Homo sapiens: one gene and its partner. The protein of the gene in region 2 binds, or shares a complex with, the protein of the main gene of each other region. Each region holds a gene or a part of one and is shown on either strand. Other genes may lie near its edges. The genes, in order: DNTTIP1 and ZNF541.

Region 1 (14,782 bases), on a different chromosome or scaffold from region 2:
TAGTAGAGACAGGGTTTTGCAATGTTGGCCAGGCTGGTCTCGAACTCCTGACCTCAAGTGATCCGCCCACCTTAGCCCCCCAAAGTGTTGGGATTATAAGGTGTGAGCTACCGCGCCCAGCCTCCCCTTAATCTCATCACTCTGATCCAAAATAAAGCAACCAAATTCATAGGCTAGAAATACCAAGAAGGGCGGGGAGTTGGGTGTGGGTAAAGCTTGGTTGGGGCTAGGAAGTAGGGACACACTGGATAGGGAGGGTCTTGTATGACTTCAGGGAAGTGTTCGAGATAACTTCGTGTGGGGGGATGGAATTGGGAGGAGGGACTGCTGGAAGAAATGGTGTAGGTGGGGTGTATGAACTTCTTTCCCAGGAGGGAGCAAATTACATTACCCCTATGTCTAGCAAAAAAGCTGACGGAAAAAAGGAGGCTACTGAAAATTGGATGGAAGGCTGGGGTTCTGGGCACTTAATCACTCACCATGAGGGTCATCAGCTCCTGCTGTAGCCTGAAAAAAGAGTATTCGGGGTTACCTGGGAGTCTGGATGGGCCAGGCCTCCAGACGGTGCATCTTCTCCCACCTGAATCTCAGGGGGAGCCGTCATGGAGGCTCCCCACATCACCAAGGTCAGGCTCAGCTCAGGGTATACTCACCAGATCCACAGGACGATCCTAGCGAGTCCTCACCCTCCCTAATTCCAGACTCCCTCGGGATGATTCTGGCATGTTCTTAATTCCCCAGGCTTTAGCATCTCTTCCTTGCCCGACTCAACTTCTCCCTTCCCCTGTCTCGGCCAAGTCACGAGGGTCCTTGAGCGTCTTCATCTAGGCCCACCAGGGAAGGAGTCTGGCAGCGCCCCTACCCTCCCATTCTCCTTCGGGAGAGTCTCAAAGAGCGGTCTGAGCTCCTGGCCTGTCCCCCATCTCTCGAATCTCACCCGCGCAAGGAGGTGGGAGTCCCGGAAGTCTCCGCCCTCGACACCCATGCCCAGGGGAATGCCAGGCCCCGAGCTCCTGGTGTGTTCTCCTGCACCCGCAGATCTCCCGCTCCAGGAGGTGGCGGCGGGGGGTGGTCCTAGAAATCTTTGCTCTGGGTACCAATGCCTAGGGCATGGCAGGCCCGGCGAGTGGTAGGCCGCATCACTCACCTTTTGCCCACCGGACCCCGGGCGGCGCCCCCGCTCGGCTCAGCTCCTTTACGGGCGGCGGCGACGCTAGTGGCGGCTGGGTCGCGGTTTTGGGAAGCCATCCGGGCGGCGTTGGCAGAGAGACAGGAACTCGGAGAACACGACTGCAACTGCAGGACTGCGGGCCCGCCCGCCCGCGTTTGAATTGTAACCCTCTGGGGGCGTCGACCAATCAATGGCTCGCTTGGGTTTGATCCAGCCAATGAGACGCTCCGGAGCGCTCTATTGCTGCGCCACTGCTAGACCTACCCACTGGCGCACCGCTATTGGGCGGCAGAATCCCGCTTCTGACAACCGATTGGTAGATGATGCTGCCATTAACTAACGAATCCGTAGCGAATTGGTGGCCGTTGGAAAACGCTAACCATTAAAGGGCCAAGAAAACGTCCACGTGGGATGAACCCCTCCTTCTGGCTACACGTCTTACTCCGCGTGGGAACACTCGGCACGCCCAGCCTTGATCCAATTTCCCTCGGGCAGGGAGTGCCTCCAATCCTGCAGCACTGGTACCCTCCCACCATTATAATCGCCTGGGCACCTTTGCTGCGTCCTAAGTATCTGAAAATCCCAGCGAGGGGAAAAACTAAAGGCTGATGGCCAGAGCAGCAGGCTCCCTATTAGAAAACATAGGTCCATACATCTCCGCAGAGATGACAGAAATAAAAAAAGGCAACATTGGTTCAGGCTGGTCGCAGTGGCTCACGTCCGTAATCCCGAACACTTTGGAAGGCCCAGGCAGGAGGATCACTTGAACCCAGGAGTTCGAGACCAGCCTGAGCAACAGGATAGGGAGACCTGTCTCTACTTAAAAGAAAAAAAAAAAAAAAGAAAAGAAAAAAAAAAAAGGCTGGTGAGGTGGCACGAGCCTGTAGTCCCAGCTACTGGCGAGGCTGAGGCGGGAGAATCGCTTGAGCCAGAGGCTGCACTCTAGCCTGGGCAACAGAGCAAGACTGTCTTCAAACAAACAAAAACCCCAACAACACAGGTTCATATCCTGTATATCCTACCTCCCCAGTGGGTAGTGTGTAACCTTGGGGCGGGTCCTTTAGTATCTTAACCTGTAAAATGGGAGCAATAAAAGCCAACTCTATTTTTCATATGATCTGTCATCAAACTCCATCGCATTCTGCCATGTCCTTACATTAGCTGGGTAAGGAAACTACAAATGGGCAAAGGGAAGACGGGCAGGGTACATGGTGCTCCCAGGTTGGTCTTATCAAGCCTGGCTCTATACTGTTATGGGTGAGGGTTATCTCGTCCTTTTTTCCTACACCCACTTCTAGAGCCCTTGATGTTCTGTCAATTCCCACAAGGTAGAGGGCACAGCAGGTTCACCATCTGTGTTTACTACAAACTGTTTAATTGTTTCTTATCCCAATAACTTTACAAATATAGAACCACATGCTAGTCTGGGGGTGCTGTGCAGTGAGTCACTACAAACTCGCTCAGGCACAGCTTAATGCCGCTGAGATCCATCTAGGAGCAGTCCCAGCGGTGGCCTCAGCCACGTGAGGAAGAGGGCTTTGGAGGAGGGCTGCCAAGTGTGGCCAGGGGACCCGGCCTCAGGTCTGTGGAGGTGCTTCAACAGCACGATGCTCATTCTCTGTCCGTAGTGTCTCCATATACTTTCTCATCTTCTCCACCATCCAGGAGGGTAGGACAAAGGATTTCAATTCCTCTAGCTTCAGATCCAGGCATCCTCTGGAACAGACATTGAAGAGAGAAGTTGGGGGAAGTGAGGATGTAGGCCCTGCCTCATTCTAGGGGCTATTTGGAGGCAGGGAGAGGAGAAGGGGCAGGAGACCCACTGGTTTTACCTGTAATCATCACTGGCCGCAAGGTCCCGGATGTCCTCCTCGATGAGGAGGTAGGCCTGAGGCAGGAGCAAGGGAGAGTGGTCATTGCCTGATTCATTTCACTCCAACTCAGTAACACTTCATTAAACATCTGTTTAATGTAAGGCCTGCTACTAGGTGGAAGCGGGGGATGCGGTTTACAATTTAGTACGGAAGAGTAAGTGGGGAGGGATGGGAATGGTTCCTTGAGACAATCTTTTACTACAGTAGATGCTTCATGGATGGGAGAGTAGGGACTGGTGACTTATTTATAGCCTTCTCTTTTAAAAAAGGACCCATTTCTCTCTTGAATGGTGTGGTGAAAATTAAGAAAAAAAAAAAAAAAAGAAAAAAAGAAAAAAAAAGGGATCCACCATTGCTCCTACACCTTTTGGTTAAGATCAAGTATACGAAAGGACCCAAGGTGGGTTATAACAAAATGGCAAGAAAGCCAGCAAAATATATATGGAAACAGGAAATCAGGAAGAGGAAACCATGTGCTCCCTCTGAGGACAAAGATAACTTGGTTTTGAACTTTGTGGCAAAATGGAAAACATGATAAACTGCTCTGCTGTCTAGTAATTGGCCTGTATTGTACTGGGGCCTGTAGAAATGCTTTGTCACAATGCCTCGGTCTACAGTGGGTGAGGGCCCTTTTGTGAACTTAACATATAGGAAGAGATATTCATCATATTAGAAAGTCTTCTGTGGGAGACTTTCTAATGTTAGGGTCAGGAATAATTGTGTATTCCTTGAGTAATTTGTCTACATCTTATGGGCACTATGAACCATAACAGATCAGGTGTCCATGAGTGGGGCCTACAGCTGAATTTGCCAACATCTGTAGAAGTGCACAGGTCTCCCAGGTCAGCAATATAAAAAACACTTTTTTTTTTTAAAGAACTACTTTTACTGGTGGCTTAATTTTAGGTCCTGCCCCCACCCCCTACCATCTATTTCTTATTTATGTAATGTTGCATTTTATGTGCATGAAGCTTACCTGAAATCTTTTTTGAAGTAAAGCATAGGCATAAATAGAGTAGTAAAATAAAATAAAAGGTAGCTCTCACTGCCAGAAAGGAGATGGCATATCAGTTTGTAAGGCACTTAGATTCTAAAAGGAGCAGTACCTGTGGTGGGAGTGAGTGAGTCCTCAGGTGGGGGACATTGTGTGTGATGGACAAAGCCCTCAACAATAGTTTTTGAACACATGCAATGATGATTTTCCTAAGGTTGCTGTTTCATATGATCTGAGAACTCTTCAAGTAGAGGTAAATCTGGAAGGGGCTGCCAAGTGTGCAAACACATTTCATTGCTAACTCCTACTGACAAGGGTTGCTGCCTCAAGTACTGTGTTGAGAAAAGATTCTATAGCTGTGTCTGGTGGAAGAGTGATCAATGAGTGAAATCTGTCAGTGGGTGCAGTAGTGGGAAAAAGTAGTACTGTGTGTCTTATACCTGCTATTCCTATGGACAGCTAATAGTATCCAAATATGTGATCTTGGAGGCATGAGGTAAAAGTGTGAGGGGGCGGAAGGGAGACCTAGGGATAGGGAAGGGAACCTGAAGATTACAATTTGCTCTTCAGCATGAAGAAATAGGCCTTATAAGTCTCTCTTCTCACACATTGGTGAGGCTTTGGAAGTCAGATTTGGAGGTAGGCTGTCACCCACAGCCAAAATCCTGGTTCCCAGGTGGGGTGGGTCACTGGCAGTGGCACAAATGAATAATGCTTACCATCTTGCCCCCTGTTGCCCGCATGTGATGCTGCTCAGCCAGCCAGTGCTTATCCTGGGGGTCAGCTGCATACTGTAAGGAATGAAGTTGTAAGAAAATTAGCCTCGGGTAAGGGGCTTTTCTCATTTGGTCCCAGAGCATACTCTTGGCCCTTGAGCAGTTCTTACCAAAAGTCCTTGTCTCCAAGCGTGGTGGACTTAGAGGGCTCACTAATCTCTTCAGAGAAAGCTAAGCCAACCCCGAGGGCAGACCATGGGACCCAATTCCCAGAGACTTAGTATACTCCCAATCCCCACCCCCTTCTCACAACAAAGCACCCCGGGCAACTGGTGGGACTGATAACTATTATTTTAGAGCTTCCTCTTTTTAAAAAATGATCGGAGGTGGCTTATAACGTCTGTAATTATTATGGTGACCATAATAAAACAAAAATCGGGACACCTCATGTACTCTCGGACGCATAATAGCATCATGGTTAAGAATTCGGTTTTGGAGTTACAAATAAGGTTGGTTGGTTTATTGATTGATTGATTGATTGATCGATTGAGACGGAGTTTCACTCTTGTTGCCCAGGCTGGAGTGCAATGGCATGATCTTGCTTCATCACAACCTCCGCCTCCTGGGTTCAAGCGATTCTCCTGCCTCAGCCTCCCAAGTAGCTGGCACTACAGGCATGCGCCACCACGCCCGGCTAATTTTGTATTTTTAGTAGAGATGGGATTTCTCCATGTTGGTCAGGCTGGTCTTGAACTCCCGACCTCAGGTGATCTGCCCACCTCGGGCTCCCAAAGTGCTGGGATTACAGGTGTGAGCCACCGTGCCTGGCTGTTTATTTATTTATTGAGATGACGTCTCGCTCTGTTGTTCAGACTAGAGTGCAGTGGCATGATCTTGGCTCACCGCAACCTCCACCTCCTGGGTTCAAGCTATTCTTCTGCTTCAGCCTTGAATAGCTGGGATTACAGGCACGTGCCAACACACCCAGCTGATTTTTGTATTTTTAGTAGAGATGGGGTTTTGCCATGTTGGCCAGGCTGGTTTTGAACTCCTGGCCTCAACTGATCCACCCACTCAGTCTCCCAAAGTGTTGGGATTACAGGTATGAGCTACTGTGCTCAACCCAAATAAGGCTTAAATTCTGGTTTCTATTCTAGGTTGGGCACCTAGAAACCAGAATTTAAGCACCTTAAAAAAAAAATCGAGGAGTGAAGAGAAACTGATATATATATTTTTTGAGACAGAGTATTGCTCTGTCGCCCAGGTTGGAGTGCAGTGGCGTGATCTCGGCTCACTGAAACCTCTGCCTCCTGGGTTTAGGCAATTCTCCTGCCTCAGCCTCCCGAGTAGAGTAGCTAGGACTACAGGAGTGCACCACCATGCCCGGCTAATTTTTGTACTTTTAGTAGAGATGGGGTTTCACCATGTTGGCCAGGCTGGCCTTGAACTCCTGACCTCAGGTGACCCGCCTGCCTCGGGCTCCCAAAGTGCTGGGATTACAGGCGTGAGTCACTGCACCTGGCTGAGAAACTGTGTTTTGCTCTCTACTACCTCCTGTGTATCGTCTGAATCTTTTTACCACGGGAATGGGTTTATATATTATTTCTATAATCAAAACATTTAAAAAAGGAAAAGAATTTGAATAATGCCTTCTGAAGGAGAGAAAAATGGGCAAAAGATATAACAGGCAGCTTACAGAAGAAATACAAATAGATTCTAAATGACTGAAAAGATACTTATAATCACTAATAGAGAATTTGTAAAGTTGGGCCAGGTGCAGTGGCTCAAGTCTATAATTCCAGCACTTTGGGAGGCTGAGGCTGTGGATCATCTGAGCTCAGGAGTTTGAGAGCAGCCTGGCCAAGATGGTGAAACCCCATCTCTACTAAAAATACAAAAATTAGCCGGGCATGGTGGTGGGCACCTGTAATCCCAGCTACTCGGGAGGCTGAGGCAGACAATTGCTTGAACCCAGGAGGTGGAGGATGCGGTGAGCTGAGATCGCGCCACTGCACTCCAGCCTGGGTGACAGAGCAAGACTCCGTCTCAGAAAAAAAAAAATGGTTGGTCTATCACTATTCTCATTTTATACAGGACAAAAACAGACTCAGAAATGTGGATCAATTCCCAGACTTGAGCTAGTTAAAAAAAAAGAAAAAAGAAAAACAAATGTGGAGCCATTTGTTCAAGTTCATGCAGCTAGTAAAATAATGGAACCAGGCCTGAAGCCATACTTTAAACCACGCTGAAGTGGGAATTCAAAGTAGGTCCAAAAGCATATTGATTTTGGGGATGATACAAACAAAGCTCTTGGAGGAGGTGGATCTTAAAGAATAGTCAGGCAGATAAGGGTGGGAGAGAAAGGCCACCCAGGCAATGGGAATAGCAAGAGTGACGACATTAAGAGAGGAAAACAAAGGAGCCACTGGGCAAACTGTTTAAGTGTTGGGACTCGAGGATATCAGACTGGAGAAGAAGCGTGAGCAGGTATGCCTTTCAAAGAACTTGAAAACTTGCACAGAATGTGGTAGAGAAAGCCCGTGATTCTGGGATCCCACAGGGCTGTGCAGTTCTGGCAAGAGGTGCCAAGCCTTACGTATAAGTGCAAAAAACCATGTGTGGAACACACATGCACTGCTATTCTTCTAATCTACTTCGATGCTCTCGTGACTGATAAAATACAAAATCATCTAAGAGGGTGAGTGAGTTTATGATTTCCTCCATTATTCCCTCAAACAGTGGGGACCAAAACATAGCTGCTCTCAGAAGAGGAGTACCCTCTTTGAAAAGGCACAGGACCCTGCCTTGCTCCAAACTCTATTTTTTTTTTTTTGAGATGGAGTTTTGCTCTGTTGCCCAGGCTGGAGTGCAATGGTGAGATCTTGGCTCACTGCAACCTCTGCCTCCTGGGTTTAAGCGATTCTCCTGCCTCAGCCTCCTGAATAGCTGGGATAACAGGCATGCGCCATCATGCCCAGCTAATTTTTGTATTTTTAGTAGAGACGGGGTTTCTCCATGTTGGTCAGGCTGGTCTCGAACTCCCGACTTCAGGTGATCCGCCAGCCTCAGCCTCCCAAAGTGCTGGGATTACAGGCGTGAGCCACTGTGCCAGACCCCAGAGTTATTTTAAAATGCAAATATGAGGGCAGTGTGATCTCGGCTCACCACAACCTCCGCCTCCTGGGTTCAAGCGATTCTCCTGCCTCAGCCTCCTGAGTAGCTGGAATTATAGGCATGAGCCACCATGCCAGCTAATTTTGTATTTTTAGTAGAGACAGGGTTTCTCCATGTTGGTCAGGCTGGTCTCGAACTCCCAACTTCAGGTGATCCACCCGCCTTGGCCTCCCAAAGTGCTGGGATTACAGGTGTGAGCTCACGCACCTGGCCCAAACTCTAATTTACAGACAACCAAATATGGTAGTGGTTAAGAGCTCAGGCTTTGGTGAGGACAGACCTGGATTTGAATCCTGACTCACCATTTCTAGCTGAATAACTGTGGGCAAGTCACTCAGCCTTTCTCAACCTCTGATTGTTTCAAATTTGTGAAATAAGGATGGCAATACTTATTTTTTAAGATAATATAAGTGTGGGATTTAAAACTGTGTTTGGCACCCAGTAAGCATGCAAGCAAAGTAGCTGTTATTACTGAGGCACAGAGGTGTTGAGTAAATCATGAAAGGGAAAGGTGAATGGCAGAGGCACAACTAGAACCCAGATGTCCTGACTCCAAGATCAGTGTTTGTTCTAAGCTTCTCTGTGCTGAGTGGAGTTCCCAGTCTACTCCCAATGCAATGGCCTGCTTTCCTCCCAGCAGTCACCTACCTTAAAGAGGTGTGGGTGCTTGATGTAGATTCTTCCTCTGGTGCCCCCCATCCCCAGGGCTCTGAAAAGTAAAAGCCAAGTGGTCAAGATTCCAGAAAGTGTAGTCCTACTAGTGAACTCCTGAGCTGTTTCCTCAATCAGTGCCAAAGCTCTTAAACTTACTTGTTGGCTCGAGATCCCAACACAAAGGTGGTAGATTCATTCAGGCGAGCTGGGTCCCACTGTGCAAAAAATAGAGAAGCTCGTGAGGGTGAAGTTTAATCTGATGGGTAGGACAGAAACACTCCTCCCCCTACCCTTTTCTAACCCTTCCCCTTGTCTATTATTTAATCAACAGTTGACCCAAGACACTGAGTACTCACAATATGCTAGGCCCTGTCTGTGCTAGATACTGGGGATAAAGAGATGAATAAGATACAGTCTCTGTTTTCTAGGATGCCACCAACATATGTACAGATAATTACACCATTGTGCGATGAGGCAAGGACACAAGTGAGTGCAGGGTCTGAGGGCTGCCGAGGGGAGGGTCCAGCCAGGAAGGCTTCCTTAGAGAGGCATTTCCCAAGTTAATTCTGAAAGGGTGAGCACAAGTTGGGGTAAAGGGGGTCAGGAACAAGGGCATTCCAGACAGGGGGCAGCATGAGCAAAGACAGGTGAGAGGCAGCTTGGCCTGCTGGAGAAACTACTAGTAATTCTGTGCTGCTAACAGAGAGAGTACAAATTAGGGAGTGGCAGCTGATGGGGCTGGAGAGAGAAACACAGAGGAGTTGGAGGTCTTAGGAGGTTATGTTCAGGGGACTGCATTTTATTTCTTCTGTAGGCAATGGGGAATCGCTGAAGGCCTCTAAACAGGGAGTGAGAGTCAGATTTCCTTTAAAGATAGCTTAGTCTTCTAGCAATGTGGATAATGGATTTGAAGGGGCAAGACTACAGGCAGGGAGAGCAGTTTAGAGGCCGCTGTGATAAAGCAGTTGGAAAGCTGCTAAGGGCCTGAGCTAGGGCAGCAGTAAGGATGAACAGAAGGAAATAGGAACTGCAATATATTTAAGAGGAAGAATTGTCCAGGACTCGACTGGGTGTAGGGAGGTAAGGAAGAGGAGGAGGAGGCAAAGATGATTAAGATAACGAATGTAAAGAAGGGCTGTGAGGAAAGATTCTAATTTCATGTTTGGATATGCTGAGTCTGAAATGCCTATGAAACTTCCAGCAGAGTGGTCAAGCAGATAGTAGGATAAACAAGTTTTAAAGTAGAAAGAGGCATGGGATGGACAAAGAGGTATGGGAGTTTTAGAACATGGTGGTCCCTGAAACCATAAGAGTATATGTTTTAGATTATCCAGAGAGTTACTTTAGATGGAGAAGTGGGCCAAGGAGAGAATTCTGGGGAACAACCATTTATATAAGTCACTGCTGAGGAAGAACTCAGGAGAGAGAGGGAGGCAACAGAGGCTAATGGTTGAGAGCACAGACTCTGGTGTCAGCGGGTCTTGGGTTTGAGACTCAGCTCGATCACTTACGAGTTATGTGACTTTGGGCAAGTCTTAAGTGCATTAAGTGTATAAGACAACTGAATAAAATAATTTATGCCCACAGGGAAGCTGGCAGAAAAGGAAACGCCTCATTTATAGAATGGTTCACAGAATTGATCTCATAAGTTTGTTATAAAGATTAAATGAGATGGTCTACACAAAAGATTTAGGACACTGCCCGTTACATACTAAGTATTGAATCAGTATTAGTGACCACTAACTCCTATAAGGAGAAGGCTTCAGCAAAGACTCAAGCCCTCTCTTTGTTTTGCCTCTAACTCCAATTCCTACACAGGATCCTCTCTGAGGCCAGTGTGGCTGGAGGTGGAGAGGGGCAGATGGCTCTGGAATGGTGTGCATGCACCCTTCGCCCCCTGCCCCTTTCCCTCATGGTGGGTCCTAGAGATAGTGGGACTATCTCCTGGGATCGTGATCTCTGCCATGCTCACATAATCATACCTTGGGGCCTTCCCGGCGAATTGGTTCACAGGATTTTGGTTTCCATCTGCTTGGAAGGAAAGAATAAAGGTGAATTCTCCAAGGTGAGACCTAGGACTAAATGCCAGCTTGCTGGTGGTGGTAGGAGTTCCTCACACACTCTCACTTTAGCCCTGGACATCCTCCTTCGTGGTGACACATAAGAGGAGGAACAAAGGGAAAAAAAGCACTGGACTAGAAGCCATTCTAGCACTAGCTCTGCTCTTACATAGTGGCATGAGCAACTCCAAGAACCTCTGAGTGGCAGTTTTCTCATCTGTCAAAAGAGACAAAAACAGCAACTGCCCTACCTATCTTGTGTTTGTGAGGAATAAAACTGCTTCGTGTAGGAGACACATCTAAGGTATGACAGTTAATACTAGCCCATCTACTAAGCCAGCTGTTCCAAACTAACCCCACGCCCCTGAACCAGACCAGTGTGGCTTTATTTGATTTAAATACTGGGCTCCCATGTAAAGTTTTGTTTGAAAAAGATTCTGCTGCTTCAGAATTTTTTTTAAAAAGTGGGGTTGGGGGTTGGTTGAGGGGGAAGGAAGGATGAACAGGCAGAACACAGAGGATTTTTAGGGCACTGAAAGCACTCAGTGTGATACTAGAATGGTGGATGCCTGTCACTATGCATTTGTCTAAGTTCATGTACAATACCAAGAGTGAACCCTCATGGAAACTATGCACTCTGAGGATCAAGACGAGTCAAAGTAGGCTCATCAAATGTAACAAATGTACCACTCTGGTGCCTGATGTCGATAATGGGGGAGGCTGTGCATGTGTAGGGTCAGGGAGTATACGGGATATGTCTGTACCTTCCTCTCAATTTTGCTGTGAACCTAAAACTGCTCTAAAAAAATTAAGTCTTAAAAAAATATATATTTGAAAATGACCGTCTTGGAGGCAATGTTAACGATATGACATTAGGCAAGTAATTCTCTGAGTCTGTTATCTGAAAAATTAATGATATCTTCTTTACAGGGTGGCTATAAAGATTAAAAGGTAAAGTATGTAACGTATTTAGACCAGTCATAAGCATCCAATATATACTAACAATGACAAACCTCTGGAGTTTAATCTTTCATCAAGCTGGGCCAAACCGTTCAGGGGGTAAAACAATTTCCTCCTCACTACCCTCCTTCCTCACCCCTCCAACCAGGATAACCCCCCTCCACGATGACTTAAGCTGATGGATCTGATTTTGACAGGCACAGAACCCTGGACTCTTTTCCTTCAGGGCCCCTCTCTCCGTCTGCTCCCCTATGCTCTCACCACACTGTTGGTCCCTACTCACACCATGCCGGCGGCTGCCCGGTCGCTTGACAGGATGTGTCCAGGAGGCCGTCCTTTCCTCTGCCACAAAAAACAGCTGTCAGAGGTCTGACCCTGTGGTTACTCCCCATACCCCATTGGCAGGTCCAGGGTCACTTGGCAGAGATGGTTTTCCAAAGAGATCAAATGATGTTTGACAGGGACAGGGAGAAAAACTGCCTCTCATGTCTAGGAAGGCTCAAAAGGGCTTTGAGGAAGCCCAGTACCTTGCGGAGTGAAGAGCCTTTTTTGAGAGACAGGGTCTTACTCTGTTACTCAGCCTGGAGTGCAGTGGCATGATCATAGCTCACTACAGCCTTGAACTCCTGGGCTCAGGTGATCCTCCCACTGCAGCCTCTCATGTAGCTAGGACGACAGAAATGTGCCAGCATGCCTGGCTAATTTTTTTTTTATTTTAGAGACAGGGTCTCACTATGTTACCCAGACTGGTCTCAAAACTCCTGAGCTCAAGTGATCCTCCCCGCTTGGCCTCCCAAAGTGTTGGGATTACAGGTGTGAGCCACCACACCCGGCCTGACAAGCCTTTTTTCAGCCAGAAAACAAAACAAGGAAATGGTTTACCTTTTTAGGAAGGGGGCTTCCTCGATGGGCACATTCTTCTTCTGCCTGACGGCCACGCTAAAAGAAAAGGGAAGGGAGTCAGTGGAAGGCCAGTGCCTGGGAGCTGCAGGTCTTCTGGAGTTGCAGAAGACAGCCCTGGACTACAGCTCTCCAGCCCCGCTCTGACCCAGGCCAAAGAAGCCCATCCAGCATGATGCTGTGTGGGCCTGGTCCTACAAATGGAAGTACATGGAACCTCCCTGGGCCCACATATTTCACTTGCCTCCCAGCCTGAAGGACCTCCCGCTCCAATACCCGAGAACACAGTGACTCTGACCTTTATTCCTGGAAGCTCATGGGTCAATCTGGGTATTACTTTTTCTCCATCTGAAAAGAGCAGTTTAGCCTGAAGGGAAAAAGACCAAGTGTTACCAGTCACTATTTTGGTGGGTAAGCACACCCTACCTACTTCCTTTTTTTTTTTTGGAGACAGAGTCTTGCTCTGTTGCTCAGGCTGGAGTGCAGCAGCACCATCTTGGCTCTCTGCAACCTCCATCTCCTGGGTTCAAGTGATTCTCATGCCTCAGCCTCCAAAGTAGCTGGGACTACAGGGGTGCGCCACCATACCCAGCTAATTTTTGTATTTTTGGAAGAGACGGGATTTCACCATGTTGGACAGGCTGGTCTTGAACTCCTGACCTCAAGTGATCGGCCCACTTCCAAATATATATATATATATATATATATATATATATATATATATATATATATATATATATATATATTTTTTTTTTTTTTTTAAATTGAGATGGAGTTTCACTCTTGTCGCCCAGGCTGGAGTGCAGTGGTGCTATCTCAGCTCACTGCAACCTCCGCCTCCTGGGTTCAAGCGATTCTCCTGCCTCAGCCTCCCAGGCAGCTGAGATTACAGGTGCCCACCACCATGCCCAGCTAATTTTTGTATTTTTATTAGAAACGGGGTTTCACCATGTTGGCCAGGCTGGTCTCGAACTCTTAACCTCAGGTGATCCACCTGCCTTGGCCTCCCAAAGTGCTGCGATTACAGGCATGAGCCACCACGCCCAGCCACACACATATATATATTTATATGCATAGAAATAGATATCTATTTTTAAAAAAACTTGAATTAATGATCATGGCTGGAAAAATTAAAAAATGTAAAAAAGCAAAATAAGAAAAACCTGGAATCTCATTACATAAACTACTATTAATGTTTCAATGTAAATTCTTCCTTGCTTTTCCCATGTAAATACATACTGTATGTTTTTTCAAACTAAATACATTAGTATAACACATACTCCTCAGTAAGCTGCTGTTTTTCTTTTTTCTTTTTTTTTTTGACATGGAATCTTGCTCTGTTGCCCAGACTGGAGTACAGTGGTGCGATCTCGGCTGTCTGCAATCTCCGCCTCCCAGGTTCAAGCAATTCTCCTGCCTCTGCCTCCTGAGTAGCTGGGATTACAGGCGTGCAACCACACCCAGCTAATTTTTTTTTTTTTTTTTTTTGGTATTTTTAGTAGAGATGGGGTTTTATCACGTTGGCTAGGCTAGTCTCACACTTCTGACCTCGTGATCTGCCCGCCTCAGCCTCCCAAAGTGTTGGGATTACAGGCGTGAGCCAGTGCGCCTGGCCTGCTGTTTTTCTTTTAATAAATACTGAGTACCTGGGACCTAAGTGCTGTGGACACAGCAGTAACTAGGACAAGCTCTTGTGGAGCTTATAGTTTGTGGGTGATCTGGATAATAAGCACAGAAACAAACAAGGTAACTGTGGATCATGATAGATGCTGTGAGAAAAAAAGAAAAAAACCCAGGCAGATGTGACAGAGAACCACCAGAGGGGAAGGGCTACTTTGCGGGAATGGCCAGGGAAGGCCTTGCTCAGAAGGTGGCCTCTGAGTTGAGATGTGAAGGAGGCTGTAAAAAAAGCTGGGCAGAAGTGTTTCAGCAGCAGGGAGGAGTGCAGAAGCTCAAAGGTGGGAACACCTGGCTCATTTGACAAAGAAAAGGATGGAATGGGCAGAGGGGAGATGGTGCAGCAGGTGGAGAATTGGGTTCACCCGACCTCTGCCAGTGGCATTTGACAGTGCTGAGGGCTCCCCCTTCTGGAAACACTCTTTTCTACAGGCTCCTGTGGCCACACTTCCTGTGTTCCTTCTACTTCTCTGGCCGTTCTTTCTTAGCCTTCTTTGCTGGCTTTTCCTTCTCAATCTGGTTCTTTTCCCTATCCTCTCTCATTACATATTCTATCTGCTCTCACCTATTCTCACAGCTTCAATTAACATCTATAAACCACG
Region 2 (15,364 bases):
TTGCTTGAACTTGGGAGGCGGAGGTTGCAGTGAGCCAAGATCATGCCACTGCACTCCATCCTGGTGACAAAGCCAGACTCCATCTCAAAAATAAATAAATAAATAAAATAAGGCCAGGTGCGGTGGCTCACACCTGTAATCCCAGCACTTTGGGAGGCTGAGGCGGGCGGATCACAAGGTCAGGAGATTGAGACCATCCTGGCTAACATGGTGAAACCCCGTCTTTACTAAAAATACAAAAAATTAGCCAGGCGTGGTGGCGGGTGCCTGTAGTCCCAGCTACTCGGGAGGCTGAGGCAGGAGAATGGCATGAACCCGGGAGGCGGAGCTTGCAGTGAGCCAAGATCAGGCCGCTGCACTCCAGCCTGGGCCACAGAGCGAGACTCCATCTCAAAAATAAATAAATAAATAAATAAAATAAAATAAATAATAGAAAAATAGATGGATAGAGCACTAGAGCATCACTATCCAAAAGCACTTTCTGTGCTACTAAGCCTGCACTGCCCAATACTGCAGTCTTTAGCCACATACACAGAAATGCAGCTAACACCCTTGAGGAACTAAACTCTTTATTTTATTTAAGTTTAGTTAAATTTATTTATTTATTTATTTATTTAGAGACAGAGTCTCACTGTGTCACCCAGGCTGGAGTGTAGTGGTGCAATCTCAGTTCACTGCAACCTCCACCTCCTGGGCTCAAGTGATTCTCCTGCCTCAGCCTCCTGAGTAGCTGGGGATTACAGGCGCCCGCCATCATGCCCAGCTAATTTTTGTATTTTTAGTAGAGATGGGGTTTCACCATGTTGGCTAAGCTGGGTCTCGAACTCCTTACCTCAAATGATCCGCCCTCCTCGGCTTCCCAAAGCGCTGGGATTACAGGCGTGCGCCACCGCGCCTGGCCAGTTAAATTTAAACAGGTACAAGCGGCTAATGGCTACCATATCAGATGGTGCAAATCTAGGGATTTCTCATTCAAGTTAGGCTTTCCAACTTCTATTTAAAAATGTGAAAGAAAAAATCAGAAGATCTGCCAATGCTGAGTCCACATTCCTGCAAGGCAACAATTGGTTGGAGGTGAGAAGCCCCCACCACTCCCTATTCTCTCAGCTCACTGATTTCTGTGCCCTGCCAGGCCTCTGGAGGCATCTGAGTTTATGACCCTCCAAATGAAACCCTCCAAACTCAGGCTTAAATGTCACCTCCACTATAGAGAACACTTCCAACATAACAAAGTCTGAGATTAATTTCTCCCTCCTCTGAACCCTGACAAGCACTTGTGTAACAATCCACTTAACATTTACTCTAAATTATCTAGGAAGTTAATTATCTTTAAAGTTCTCCCATTTTCTCCAGACTCTCAGCTCTAGGATGGCTGGGACTCGGCCTTAGGTGTCTAAACTTCTCACAGTATCTTGCCTAGCACAGAACTTTGATCACAGAAGGCTCTGAGCATCCTTTTCATTCATGAGTGACAGAATTCCATTGTGCCACCTCTTTTCCTCTTTGAAAAGCTCCAACCACTGTTCTGCCACCACACCCCCCACCTCCTAAGCACCACCTTCTCCCTTCTCTCCCTGCATCCATGTTACCAGGGAAAGGGTCATCAAGTCTGAGTAACAGCAGGTTCCTGGGAGTTGAGCAGACAGACTTGCAGCTTTCACCCTAGCTATGCAATTTCCTTCATTTTATTTTATTTTATTTTTTGAGACAGGGTCTTACTCTGTCGCCCAGACTGGAGTGCAGTGGCGTGATCTCGGCTCACTGAACCTCCACCTCGCGGATTCAAGCGATTCTCCCATCTCAGCCACCCGAGTAGCTGGGTTTACAAGCATGTGCCACCACACCTGGCTAATTTTTGTATTTTTAATAGAGACAGGGTTTTGCCATGTTGGCCAGGCTGGCCTCGACCTCCTGCCGTCAAGCAATCCACCTGCCTCAGCCTCCCAAAGTGCTGGTATTACAGGTGCAAGCCACTGCACCCGGCCTGCAATTTCCTTCCTTACTTTCCTACTCCAATTTTTTTTGTTTTCCTGAGTTGAAGTCTCTCTCTGTCACTCAGGCTGGAGTGCAATGGCGTGGCCTTGGCTCATTGCAACCTCCGCCTCCTGGGTTCAAGTGATTTTCCTCCTCAACCTTCCGAGTAGCTGGGACTACAGGTGCACACCACCACACTGGGCTAATTTTTGTATTTTTAGTAGAGACGAGGTTTCACTATGTTGGCCAGGCTGGTCTCAAACTCCTGACCTCGTGATCCACCCACCTCGGCCTCTCAAAATGCTAGGATTACAGGCGTGAGCCACTGTGCCCAGCCTCCACTCCAAATATTATTGTAAACTATAGACCCATTTTGTTTGGCCTACACAGTATTTTTACAAATTGGATTAGTCATCAACATTTTTTTTTAATGGGGAGATTTCACCTTCCTATATGGATTTCTGGTTTCTTTTGAAAATGATTAGATTTGATATTCCTTCACAGTTAACAACGAGGTAGATCTGAGGGACAAATGGCATCTCTAGAAAGGGCTTATGGTCTCCAGTTTTCCCAGCCCTCACTTATCTTCCTGCCTGGCCCTTATAATATTCATCATTGTAATAATAATAATAATAATAACAGTGAACATTTATTGAGGCTTTATGACATGCCAGGTACTCTTGTAATCACTTGTATGTCATCGTATTTAATTCCCACAATACTTGAGGCATATACTGTATTATTAACCCTATTTCACCAATGAGGTAAATAGTCCAGAGAAGTTGAGTAACTTGCCCAAAACCAAGCTAGGATTCAACCCTGGGTAGTCTAATTTCGAAACCCTTACGCTTGCCCGCTCCACTATGCTTTTATCACACACTTGAGACTGGGACTCCTGCTTCACACTCGTGCCTACATTCTTAAGTAGAACAATCAAGAAAGACTTCCAGCTGGGCAAGGTCATTCTCGCCTGTAATCCCAGCACTTTCTGAGGCCTAGGTAGGAAGATTGCTTGAGTCCAGGAGTTCAAGACCAGCCCGGGCAACAAAGTGAGATCCCCGCCGCCCCCCACCCATCTCTACAAAAAAAATCAAAAATTAGCCAGGTGTGGTGGTGCACACCTGTGGTCCCAGCTACTCGGGAGACTGAAGCAGAAGGATTGCTTGATGTTGGGAGGTCGAGGCTCCAGTGAGCCAGGATCACACCACGGCACTCCAGCCTGGGCAAACAGCGAAACCCTGTCTCAAGAAAAGAAAGGAGAAAAGAAAAGAGCAAAACAAAGCACAAAGACTCCCTCCTATAGTCTTATAGTTATGTAACCAATAACTAATTTTAACCAGAAGGTAAAGTCATTTTCTCTGGCCGGGCACGGTGGCTCACGACTCTAATTCCAGCACTTTGGGAGGCTGAGGCGGGCAGATCACAAGGTCAGGAGATCGAGACCATCCTGGCTAACACGGTGAAATCCTGTCTGTACTAAAAATACAAAAAATTAGCCAGGAGTGGTAGCGGGTGCCTGTTGTCCCAGCTACTCGGGAGGCTGAGGCAGGAGAATGGTGTGAACCCAGGAGGTAGAGCTTGCAGCAAGCCGAGATCACTCCACTGCACTCCAGCCTGGGCGACAGAGCGAGACTCCATCTCCAAAAAAAAAAAAGTCCATTTTGGCTGGGCGTGGTGGTTCATGCCTGTAATCCCAGCACTTTGGGAGGCTGACGCAGGCAGATCACTGGAGGCCAGGAGTTTGAGACCGCCTTGCCAACATGGTGAAAACCCGTCTCTACTAAAAATACAAAAATTAGCCGGGCATGGTGGTGGGCACCTGTAATCCCAGGTACTCAGGAGGCTGAGGCATGAGAATCACTTGAACCTGGGAGGTAGAGTTTGCAGTGAGCTGAGATAGTGCCAATGCACTCCAGTCTGGGCGACAGAGCAAGACTCTGTCCTAAAAAAAAAAAAAAAAAAAAAAAAGCGCATTTTGTTTTTTTGTTTATATATAATGGGTTTATTACTGCCCTTTTAAAATCAATTAATAAACATTTTGAAAGTTGATTAGTTTAAACTTCTAATACAGCAAATGCCAGTAGATAAAGTTTACATAAACAAAAATTCTCTACAGCCTTCAATAATTTTTAAGTGCAAAGGGGTCTTAAGAGCAAAAGTTTTAAATTAGCTGGGCGTGGTGGTGCACGCCTGCAGTCCCAGCTACTTGGGAGGCTGAGGCAGGAGAATTGCTTGAACCCAGGAGGCAGAGGTTGCAGTGAGCCGAGATCGCACCACTGCACTCCAGCCTGGGAAACAGAGAGAGACTCCATCTCAAAAAGAAAAAAAAAAAAAAAGTTTGAGAACTACTATTCCAATAAGAAAAAGTCCTGCATGTCCACATACACATGTGCCCAAGCAGACACGCATCTAAAAGAAAGAAACCCGAAACTGAAAATTCCAAAGTGGTGGCCGGCAGGCATATTTTATAAGTTCCCTATGCTGTCTTTTTTTTTTTTGAGACGGAGTCTCGCTCTGTTGCCCAGGTTGGAGTGCAGTGGTGCAATCTCGGCTCACCACAACCTCCGCCTCCCAGGTTCAAGCGATTCTCATGCTTCAGCCTTCCCAGTAGCTGGGACTACAGGCGCCTGCCACCACATCCAACTAATTTTTTGTATTTTTAGTAGAGACAGGGTTTTACTATATTGGCCAGGCTGGTCTCAAACTCCTCAGCCGCCTCGGCCTCCCAAAGTGCTGGGATTACAGGCATGAGCCACTGCGCCCAGCCTACGCTGTCTTATTTAATTCTTAAATTATCAAATGTGTTGCTAGCATTTAAAAATCAGAAGGTTTCACCTAAGGATAGTTTTCTGGCCTCTTCTCAAAGAAATCGAAAGTTCTGGCAACACTGGCCTGGCATTTCCACTGCCTGGCATCACTTAGATGGGACATACAATCTTTGCTTCACGACAATCCTTACTTCTTCCCTTTACCTGTGCCTTACCTGTAAGTATCTGAGTTGCCACCCTGAGCTAGGGAAGGAAAAACGTTTTTTGCAATAAACATCAATAAAGAAACACACATCAATCTATGTCTGCACTCCTCCTAACAGGTCAACATGCACAATAAATAGCCCTTTTCCCTGTTTGACTTCTCCAAAGCAGTAACTTGTATGATTACCATTAGTACGGACTTTGGTATTGCTTAGAAACCCTCTTGAGAAAGAACGAGATCTATCCAACAAAGCAGGTGTCTTTGGCTCAGTGCAAAGGAAGGAAACTCACCAGAAGAGCAAGTTAGTGAATCTCCAGGGAACAGGAGGACCCAGTTTAGGCCCCACAGGGAGGGGGTTCAGGTGACAAGCAGACCACTGGATATGTCCTCCTGGAACACTGAGTGGTAAATGCAGGATACTCCCAATTTCTTTTGCCCTGAAAGCAGGTGGTGGGAAGGAAGAAGCAGTCAGGACTTGGGTCCCAAAGAAACAAGAACAGAGATGTGAAAATGGAGAAGAGCAACAATTTTTGGAAGAAGGCAGAAAGCAGTATCAACAGCGGAGATTTGAGTGAGGAGGAAAGGTTTTTTTGGTAAGAAGAAATAATTGTTCCTTCTTTCCTTATTTTTCCCCCGTGGGAAGAGACCTAGAGAATTTTACCGGGAGAAACTTAATTAGGGCAGAATTGGTGATAAAATAAGGATATTTGCTGGAAAGTTGGGGGTAGGTGAGGAGGACTGGAAACATAAATATTAGACGAGAGAGAAACTGGAAGGAATTAGTTGGTTTGTTCTAAGCGAAGATATTCCAAAAAGGGGCACTCTAGGTGTGAAGAAAAAAATTTTGCTGGAAAGTGATCCTGAACGGATGAAAAAAAACTGGGTTAATTTTTTTTCTTTTTTTGCGCTAAGGGAAGTTACTTAAAGGAGGGGGAGGGGCATGTCAAGGAAAGGAGGAGAGATTTGGAGTTTTGCTGGAAGATCCTAAAAAGGGATAAATCTGGGTGCCCCAAAGTGGGACTATGGAGGAGGAAGGGGGATTCTGAGCAGAAGGGGCCTGGAAGAGGCTAGCGAATGCAAGGCCCAGATGCAGAAGGTGGGGAGGTCGGGTAGGGCCCGCGGCGCGAGCTGGGGGGCTGCGAGGGGGCAGTTGAGGCCCGGGGGGACGGAGTGGGAAAGAAAAGGGGGTGCAGCGGGCCAGGGGATCCTGAGGAGGGTCTTCTCCAAGGGGGAAGGGCCTGTGGGGTGCAGCGGGGCCCGGAGCTGTTGGGTTGCAGAAGATGCGTGCGTGACGCAGGGTGAGGGGCGCCCGCCGCGCCTGCTGCGCCCCTCGAAAGGCAGATGGGGCCCCCTAAAAAAAGAAATCAAGAAACGAATGAGATTGTAAAAAGGGGGAGGGGTTGAAAAAAGAGGAAATAATAGTAATGGGGGATAAGGAGGAAAGGGAGGGGCAGGGGCAGCAGCAACCGGGTTTTACCCGCCCCCGGGGGCTCGCGCGCCGGGCCTCGCGCCTGGCGCCTCGCGGGGCTCCCAGCGGCCTCCCGCCTTCCCCGCGCCGCCCGGGGCGCACGCGCAGCCCGGCCCACCCCCGGATCTCCTCGCTCACGCGCGGCGCAGGCGCGCGTACGTGACCGCGGGCCGCCTCACGCCTCCCAGAGCGGCCTCGCGCGTGCCTCCTGGCCGCGCGCTCTCGGCTGCTTCTCCGAGGGGCGGGGCTTGCCGCGGGCGGGAAAGGAGGCGGTTGGTCGCCATTTTGGGAGGGGGCGGTTGAGGGCGGAGAGTGAGAAGAGTGAGCCGGGGAGGAGCGGCGGGGGGAGGGGCCAGTCCCCCAAGACCCGCATCCCGAGGCCGAGAGTCCCGGGAGCCTCCACTCCAGCCATTGTTCCTGGTGGGCGGTGTTAGAACGCGGTGGCGGCCGCTGGATGGCTGCCCCCAGTCCCCGGAGGGGCCTCTGAGCAGCGTCCTGGTGCTGGGAGGCCGTATCGTCTGTTTCCGAGGACCCTGTCGCGAGCGCGGGAGTCTCTCAGGGTCTCTTCTGCGTCATTGGGTGGGGGAGATGTGGGGCGAGCTGCTCCTCCCTTTTTTTAAAATTTTTTTCAGAGACAGGGTCTCTCCCTGTTCCCCAGGCTGCGATCACGGCTGCCGCACCCTCCCCTTCCTGGGCTCAGGCGATCCTCCTGCCTCAGTCTCTTGAGTAGCAGCGACCACAGGCGGGCGCCGCCACACCTTGCTAATTTTTACATTTTTTTTAGAGATAAGGTCTCGCCATGTTGCCCAGGCTAGCCTGGTTCCCCTGGGCTCAAGCGATCCTCCTGCCTCAGTCTCCCAAAGCATTGGGATTATAGGTGAGAGCCACCGCGCCCAGCCTATTCCTCCCTTCTTTGGGGAAAGGCTGAGCCATCTGGGGCCCCTGCTCCGTGCTGAGCTGTGTTGGGAAGGGCGGTAGGCCCTGGTGCCGACTGGCCAAGGACCATCTTTTTTTTCTTTTTTTTTTTTTTTGAGACAGGGTCTTGTTCTGCCGCCCAGGCTGGAGTTCAGTGGTGCGATCTCGGCTCACTGCAATCTCCGCCTCCCGGGTTAAAGCGATTCTCCTGTCTCAGCCTCCCGAGTAGCTGGGATTACAGGCACGTGCCACCACGCCCGGCTAATTTGTTGTATTTTCAGTAGAGACGGGGTTTCACCATGTTGGCCAGGCTGGTCTTAAATTCCTGACCTCGGGTGATCAGGTGATCCGCCTGCTTCTGCCTCCCAAAGTGCTGGGATTACAGACCTGAGCCACCGTGCCCGACCTGGCCAAGGGGTTTGAACTGTCCTGCAACTGAGGCAGATAATTCATTCCTTAGAAACGGAGTGCTGAAGATCTGTGGAGAATGAGAGCAGATTAGTGGTTGCCCGGGGTGGAAAGGGGCATCGCGGATCTTATCTGGGTAATGGAAATATTCTAAAACTGAGCTATGGGCCAGGCGTGGTGGCTCACGCCTGTAATCCCAGCTCTTTGGGAGGCCAAGGTAGGAGGATCCCTTGAGCCTAGGAGTTTGAGACCAACCTGGGCAACCTAGTGAAACCCTGTCTCTAAAAAAAAAAAAAAAAAAAAATTAACTGGAGATGGTGGCATGCGCCTGTAGTCCCAGCTACTTGGGAGGCTGAGGCAGGAGGATCGCTTGAGCCTGGGAGTCCAAGGCTGCAGTGAGCTATATGATCAGGCCATTGCACCCCAGACTGGGGGATAGAGCGAGACTCTGATGGGGGAAAAAAAGGGTTATGGTGATGGTTGCACAACTCAGTAAATTTCTAAAAATCAGTAAGTATACACTTAAGTGAGTGACTTTTATGTAAATTATACCTCAAAGTTTTTTTTTTTTTTAATTGATTATTGGGGGAGGAAACAGAGGAAAGAAGAGGGCCTGTCATCTTGCTTTAGGATCCCTTCATTTAGCAAGTTTTTATTGGGTCTCTGTTCTAGGTGCTCAGATATAGTGTCTGGGTCAAACAGACATTCCTCTCCTCCTGGAACTTATGTTTTAGAGCAGTGCTGTTCAGTAGTAATAAAATGCAAACTTCAAGCACCAGCCACTTATGTAATTTTACATTTTCTAGTAGCCATGTTTAAAAGGAACAAAATGTAAAGAAGGCAGGTGTGGCGGCTGGCACTTGTAGCCCAGCTACTTGTGAGGCTGAGACAGGAGGATCACTTGAACCCAAGAGTTGGAGACTGCAGTGAGCTATGGCCCTGTCTGTGTAGAGCCACTGCACCAGCCTGGGCAACATAGTGGGACCCATTCTCTTAAAAAAAAAAAAAAATGGCTTGGGACGGGTGTGGTGGTTCACACCTGTAATCTCAACACTTTGAGAGGCTGAGGCAGGAGGATTGCTTGAGTTCAGGAGGTCAAGACCAGCCTGGGCAACACACCCAAACCTAAAAATCAAATAAATAAAAGTAAATAATAAAATAAAAGAGAAAGAAACACAAGTGAAATTAATTTGGTAATATTTAATCCCAAATATTTCAACACATTATCAGTATAAAAACTAAGAGATAATTTACACTTTTGGGGCTGTCTTTAAAACCCCACATATACAGTATTTTACATTCACGGGACATCTCAATTCAGACCAGCCACATTTCCAGGGCTCCATGGAACCTTGTAGCGAGTGGCTCTGGTACTGACAGCATACCTCTACAGGGGGACAAGCAAATGCATTTACTTTTTTTGTTGTATTTTTTTGATACAGGGTCTCACTATGTCACCTAGGCTGAAGTGCATTGTTGTAATCATGCCTCGCTGCATCCTTGACTTCCTGGGCCCAAGCTATTATACCACCTCAGCCTCCTGAGTAGCTGGTACTACAGGCCTGCACCACCACACCCAGCTAATTTTTTGTATTTTTAGTAGAGACAGGGTTTTGCCATGTTGGCCAGGCTGGTTTTGAACTCCTAGGCTCAAGCAGTCTTCCTGCCTTGGCCTCCCAACATGCTGGGATTACAGGAGTGAGCCACCGTGCCTGGCTGCAAATACATTTATAATGCAGTATGTTATACCTTGAAGAAAAACAAAGGAAAGAGGATGGGGTCAGAGGGTATTGTTTTATACAGGTCAGTAAAGGCTTCTCTGGTGAGATTGCATTGAGCAGAGATCTGAAGGAAGTAAGGAAGGGTCCTATGAAAATATCTGGGGGAAGAAGAGAGGGAACAGCACGTGCACAGGCACTGAGGCAGGAAGATGTGGAACCCTTTTGAAAGACAGCAGAGAGGCCAGGCATGGTGGCTTATGCTTGTAATCCCAGCAATTTGGGGGGCCCAGGTAGGCTGATCACTTGAGCCCAGGAGTTCGAGACCAGCCTGGCCAACATGTTGAAACCCCATCTCTACTAAAAATACAAAAAATTATCTGGGCATGGTGGTGCACACCTGTAGTCCCAGCTACTCGGGAGGCTGAGGCATGAGAATCTCTTGAACCTGGGAGGCAGCGGTTGCAGTGAGCCGAGATCACGCCATTGTGCTCCATCCTTGGTAACAGAGTGAGACTCTGTCTCAAAAAAAAAAAAAAAATCAGAAGAAGAGAGACCAGTGTGGCCAGAACCACGTGAGTGAAGAAACTAGGGGCAGATGGCATAGGGACTTACAGGTCATGCTAAGGCAGGAATTAAACTCCTGGAAACAATTTCAGAGGGTTCTTCCTTTATTTAGCACACTTTTTGTTTTGTGGGGTTTTTTGTTTGTTTCTTTTATTTTCTTTCTTTTTTTCTTTTTTCTTTTTCTTCTTTTTTTTCTTTTGAGACAGAGTCGCGCTCTGTAACCCAGGCTGGAGTGCAGTGGCACCATCTCGGCTCAATGCAACCTCTGTCTCCTGGGTTCAAGTGATTCTCCTGCCTCAGCCTTCTAAGTACCTGGGATTACAGGCTCGTGCCACCACGCCCAGCTAATTTTTTGTATTTTTAGTAGAGACGGGGTTCCACCATGTTAGCCAGGATGGTCTCCATCTCCTGACCTCGTGATCCACCCGCCTCAGCTCCCAAAGTGCTAGGATTACAGGTGAGAGCCACTGTGCCTGGCCTTCTTTTCTTTTTCTTGTTTTCTTTTTTTTTTTCGCTTATTTAGCACACATTTTAAAAATGCTTTGTTTCAGCCATGTAATCTCTCTTCTTGATGGAGGAAATAAGGATCCTAGCCACTGGACAGATGAGAATCTAGTTAAAAAACAGGACTTAAGCTCCTGAAATAAATTAGCATCTTCTGTCATTGATAGACATTGAACACTTCATGGACACAGAAGATAAATGCAACACATAAACAAAAAATTAGCATTAGCCAAGCATGCTTGTAATCCCAGCACTTTGGGAGGCCAAGGCAGGTGGATCACCTGAGGTCAGGAGTTCGAGACCAGCCTGGCCAACATGGTGAAACGTCCATCTCCACTAAAAATACAAAACTTAGCCAGGTGTGCTGGTGCGTGCCTGTAATCCCAGCTACGCAGGAAGTTGAGACAGGAGAATTGCTTGAACCTGGGAGGTTGAGTCTGCAGTGAGCCGAGATCGCACCATTGCACTCCAGGCTGGGCAACAGAGCGAGACTCTGTCTCAAATAAAAAAAAGCATTTAGCATTTATTTTAAAGGCCTACAAATTAAGGTGACAACCTAATAAAAAAAAAGAATATAAGATTTGAAGAGGCACTTCATACAAGAGGAAACATGAAGTGAGGACTAACCACAACAACAAGAGAATGCAAATTAAAACCAAAGATACCGCAGCACACCTACCACTTCGGTGAATCAAAAAACATTTTTTTTTTTCTGTTTGCTGAAGCAAGACGAACTGAGTATACAGGACTAGTGACAGGTAAAATTGGTAGAACCACACTGACAAACCCAGGGGTTAACTCTAGAAAACTTCTTGATCATGTGCGCCAAGAGATGCAACAGAAGAACAAGCAGCAATGTTTGTAATAGCAAAAAAAAGAACAGAAAAGAAAGGAAAGAAACAGATTGGATCCTGGATTCTGGATTGAATAATCCTGGAACAAGATAAATAAATAAATAAATAAATAGGCCAGGCATGGTGGCTCACGCCTGTAATCCCAGCCCTGTGGGAGGCCGAGGCAGGTGGATAACTTGAGGTCGAGAATTTGAGACCATCCTGGTCAACATGGTGAAACCCCATCTCTACTAAAAATATAAAAATTAGCTGGGCATGGTGGTAGGCACCTGTAATCCAGCTAAGGCTTAGGAGGCTGAGGCAGGAGAATCGCTTGAATTTGGGAGGTGGAAGTTGCTGTCAGTGAGCTGAGATGGTGCCACTGCACTCCAGCCTGGGAAACAGAGTGACAGTGACTTCATCTAAAAAAAAAAAAAAAGACATTACTTAAAAAACTAGAGAAATCTCCAACAAAGGCCAGGCATCTGTAATTCCAGCACTTTGGGACCCCAAGGCAGGAGGATCACTTGAGCTCAGGAGTTCAAGACCACCCTGGGCAACTTGGTGAGATCCTGTCTCTACGAAAAAATTTTAAAAGTTACCCAAGCATAGTAGCACACACCTGTGGTCCCAGCTACTCCACAGGCTAAGGCGAGAGGATTGCTTTAGCTCAGGACTGCATTCCTATCTGGTTAACAGAGCAAGACTGTCTCAAAAAAAAAAAAGAAAAAATCTCAACAAAGATTGGAATTTAGTTAATAGTAATGTATCCACTTTTTGGGGTTTTTTTTTTTTTTTGAGACAGAGTCTCGCTCTGTCGCCCAGGCTGGAGTGCAGTGGCGCAATCTCAGCTTGCTGTAAGCTCCGCCTCCCGGGTTCACGCCATTCTCCTGCCTCAGCCTCCCGAGTAGCTGGGACTACAGGCGCCCGACACCACGCCCAGCTAATTTTTGTATTTTTAGTAGATGGGGTTTCACCGTGTTAGTCAAGATGGTCTCGATCTCCTGACCTCGTGATCTGCCGGCCTCGGCCTCCCAAATGCTGGGATTACAGGCGTGAGCCACCACGCCCAGCCTTTTTTTTTTTTGAGATGGAGTCTGGCTCTGTCTCCCAGGCTGCAGTGCAATAGCATGATCTTGACTCACTGCAACCACCGCCTCCCAGGTTCTGCCTCAGCCTCCAGAGTAGCTGGGATTACAGGCGCCCGTCACCACACCCAACTAATTTTTATACTTTTAGTAGAGACGGAGTTTCACCATGTTGGCCAGGGTGGTCTAGAACTCATCCTGACCTCAGGTGATCCGCCCGCCTCAGCCTCCCAAAGTGCTGAAATTACAGGCATGAACCATTGCACCCCGCCTGTTTTGTGTGTGTGTGTTTTTTTTTTTTTTTTTTTTGAGACAGGGTCTCATTCTGTCGCCCAGGCTGCAGTGCAGTGGTGCCATCTGGGCTCACTGCAATCTCCGCCTCCCAGGTTCAAGCCATTCTCCTGCCTCACCCTCCTGAGTAGCTGGGACTACAGAAGTGCACCACCATGCCTGGCTTATACATTTTTTATTTTTTGGTAGTGACGGGGTTTCACTGTGTTAGCCAGGCTGGTCTCAAACTCCTGGCCTCAGGTGAGCCGCCTGCCTCGGCCTTCCAAAGTATGAGGATTTTAGGCATGAGCCACCGAGCCTGGCCAATGTTTTTGTAGTTTTGACAAATGTATAGTTGTGTCACTTAACAACGGAGATCTGTCTGAGAGATGTATCTTCAGGTGATTTTTTCCTTGTTGCGTGAACGTCGTAAGCTGTACAAACCCAGATGGTATAGCCTAGCACACAGCTAGGCTGTATGGTGTAGCCTATTGTTCCTAGGCTACAAACATGCAGCATGCAACTGTACTGAATACTGTAGGCAGCTGAAACACAAAGGTAAGTATTTGTGCATCAAAACATAGAAAGGTACAGTAGACCAGGCGTGGTGGCTCATGCCTGTAATCCCAGCACTTTGGAGGCCGAGGCAGGTGGATCACCTGAGGTCAGGAGTTCGACACCAGCCTGGACAACATGGTAAAACCCCATCTCTACTTAAAATACAAAAATTAGCCAGGTGTGGTGGCAGGCACCTGTAATCCCAGCTACTTGGGAGGCTGAGGCAGGAGAATCACTTGAACCTGGGAGGCGGAGGCTGCAGTGAGCCGAGACCTCGCCACTGTACTCCAGCCTAGGCGATAGAGCGAGAGTCCATCTCAAACAAAAAAGAAAAGAAAAGAAAAGAAAAAAGAAAAGGTACAGTAAAAATACAGTATTATAATCTTACAGGACCTCTGTCATATGTGTAGTTCTTATTGGCCAAAACGTTGTTATGTGGCACATGACTGTCCTGTGATAAAGTAAGATGCCAACATCAGGGAAAGGGTGAGGGGGATGTGGTAACTCTTTGTACCATCTTTCCAAGTTTCCAGTAAATTTAAAATTACTCCAAAATAAAAAGTTTAGGGTGAAAAAAGAAGGAAAGGAAATGAAAATGTCCACCTATAGGAGACTGGATAAATCGTGGTATAGTTATTCAATGGAGTATTATGCAGCAGTGAAAATGAGTCAATTTCCATTACACACAGCAACACAGATGTGCTCCCATTTACATATAACATTTCAACAGGGTGTGGTGAATCGTGTCTGTAATCCCAGCACTTTGGGAGGCCGAGCCAGGAGGCATCACTTGAGGCCAGGAGTTCAAGACCAGCCTGGACCACATGGCAAGAAAAATTAAAAATAAACTGGGCATGGTGGCGTGATCTGCCTGTAGTTCCAGCTTCTCAGGAGGCAGAGGTGAGAGGAACACTTGAGCCCTGGAGGTCGAGGTTGCAGTGAGCCATGATCCCACCGCTGCACTCCAGCCTGGGCAACACAGTGAGACTCTGTCTCAAAAATAAATATCATTTCAAAACACAGGCAAAGCTAAACAATAAGCAGTTTAGGGACATAGATAGAATTATTATTTTTTTTAAAGTAAGGGAGCCAGGCATGGTGGCACACACCTGTGGTCCCAGATACTCGGGAGGCTGAGGCAGGAGGATCACTTGGGACCAGGAGTTCTGGGCTGTAGTACACTATGCCAATGCAGGGTCCACGCTAAGTTTGGCATCAGTTTGGTGGCCTCCTGAGAGCGGGGGATCACCAGGTTGCCTAAGGAGGGGTGAACTGGCCCATGTTGGAAATGGAGCAGGTCAAAACTCCTGTGTTAATCACTGGTGGGATCATGCCTGTGCATAGCCACTGCACTCCATCCTGGGCAACATAGCAAGACCCTATCTCTTAAAAAAAGAAAAAACTAGCCAGATGTGGTGGCATGTGCCTATAGTCCCAGCTACTCAGGAGGCTGAGGTGGGAGGATCGCATGAGCCCAGGAGTCCGAGGTTGCAGTGAACTATGATTGTACCACTGGACTCCAGCCTGGTCTACAAAATGTGACCTTATCTCTCATAAACAAAACAAAACAAAATAAAATGGAAGCCCCTGAGAAGCTAAGGGAAAAGATGCTCTTCAGAAGGAGAGGGGTACACCCTGGCCGCAGGTTCCTCTTCTCTGCCAACCTTTTCCTGTTGTCTCCATCTATTCACTTTGTTCAGCATTGCTTTCTGTGATTTGTCTTTTGAATCACGTCCTTCAAGCATTCTCACACTCCTCACTCCTCTCGGCCTCTAAAGGACTCACCTGGCCAAACTCCAGCCATCCTCTTCTCTGTGCCAGCCGAGCCCAGCAGAAGGAAACCACCCAGCCAGCCCAACGGGTTTTACCTGAATCAGAGAAATCACAGGCCTCAGACAGGCGCAGGGCACTCTCTATGTGTCTCTGGTGTGCTTACATTTCCCCCCTGCCCTCCAGCCCATGACTAGGTCCCACACTTCCCTGTGCACATAGAAGCCATCAGAAGGGAACCCCCTTGTCATCTGTCCCTGTGATTCCCTCTCTCAAGGATTGGGGTCTCCCTCCCTCCTTCCTTCCTTCCTTCTTTCC

The links.
Region 1: ZNF541 (region 2) and DNTTIP1 share a complex: the UniProt entries of both Homo sapiens proteins name them as parts of the histone deacetylase complex.

What each region holds. Positions count from the first base shown.
Region 1 is NC_000020.11:45,799,162-45,813,943, reverse strand, and holds the end of DNTTIP1 (deoxynucleotidyltransferase terminal-interacting protein 1), read right to left. Parts: intron 12,871-14,782; coding exon 12,802-12,870; intron 12,543-12,801; coding exon 12,486-12,542; intron 11,946-12,485; coding exon 11,887-11,945; intron 10,612-11,886; coding exon 10,566-10,611; intron 8,799-10,565; coding exon 8,740-8,798; intron 8,639-8,739; coding exon 8,578-8,638; intron 4,831-8,577; coding exon 4,759-4,830; intron 3,060-4,758; coding exon 3,004-3,059; intron 2,888-3,003; coding exon 2,749-2,887; 3' UTR 2,526-2,748; downstream 1-2,525. Other genes in the region: UBE2C (ubiquitin-conjugating enzyme E2 C), read right to left, coding at 480-507, 1,148-1,248. UniProt on the Homo sapiens protein: Increases DNTT terminal deoxynucleotidyltransferase activity (in vitro). Also acts as a transcriptional regulator, binding to the consensus sequence 5'-GNTGCATG-3' following an AT-tract.
Region 2 is NC_000019.10:47,566,659-47,582,022, forward strand, and holds the start of ZNF541 (zinc finger protein 541), read right to left. Parts: upstream 6,491-15,364; 5' UTR 6,425-6,490; intron 6,375-6,424; exon of another isoform or gene 5,385-6,374; 5' UTR 5,238-5,384; intron 3,125-5,237; exon of another isoform or gene 3,096-3,124; intron 84-3,095; exon of another isoform or gene 1-83. UniProt on the Homo sapiens protein: Transcription regulator which is essential for male fertility and for the completion of meiotic prophase in spermatocytes.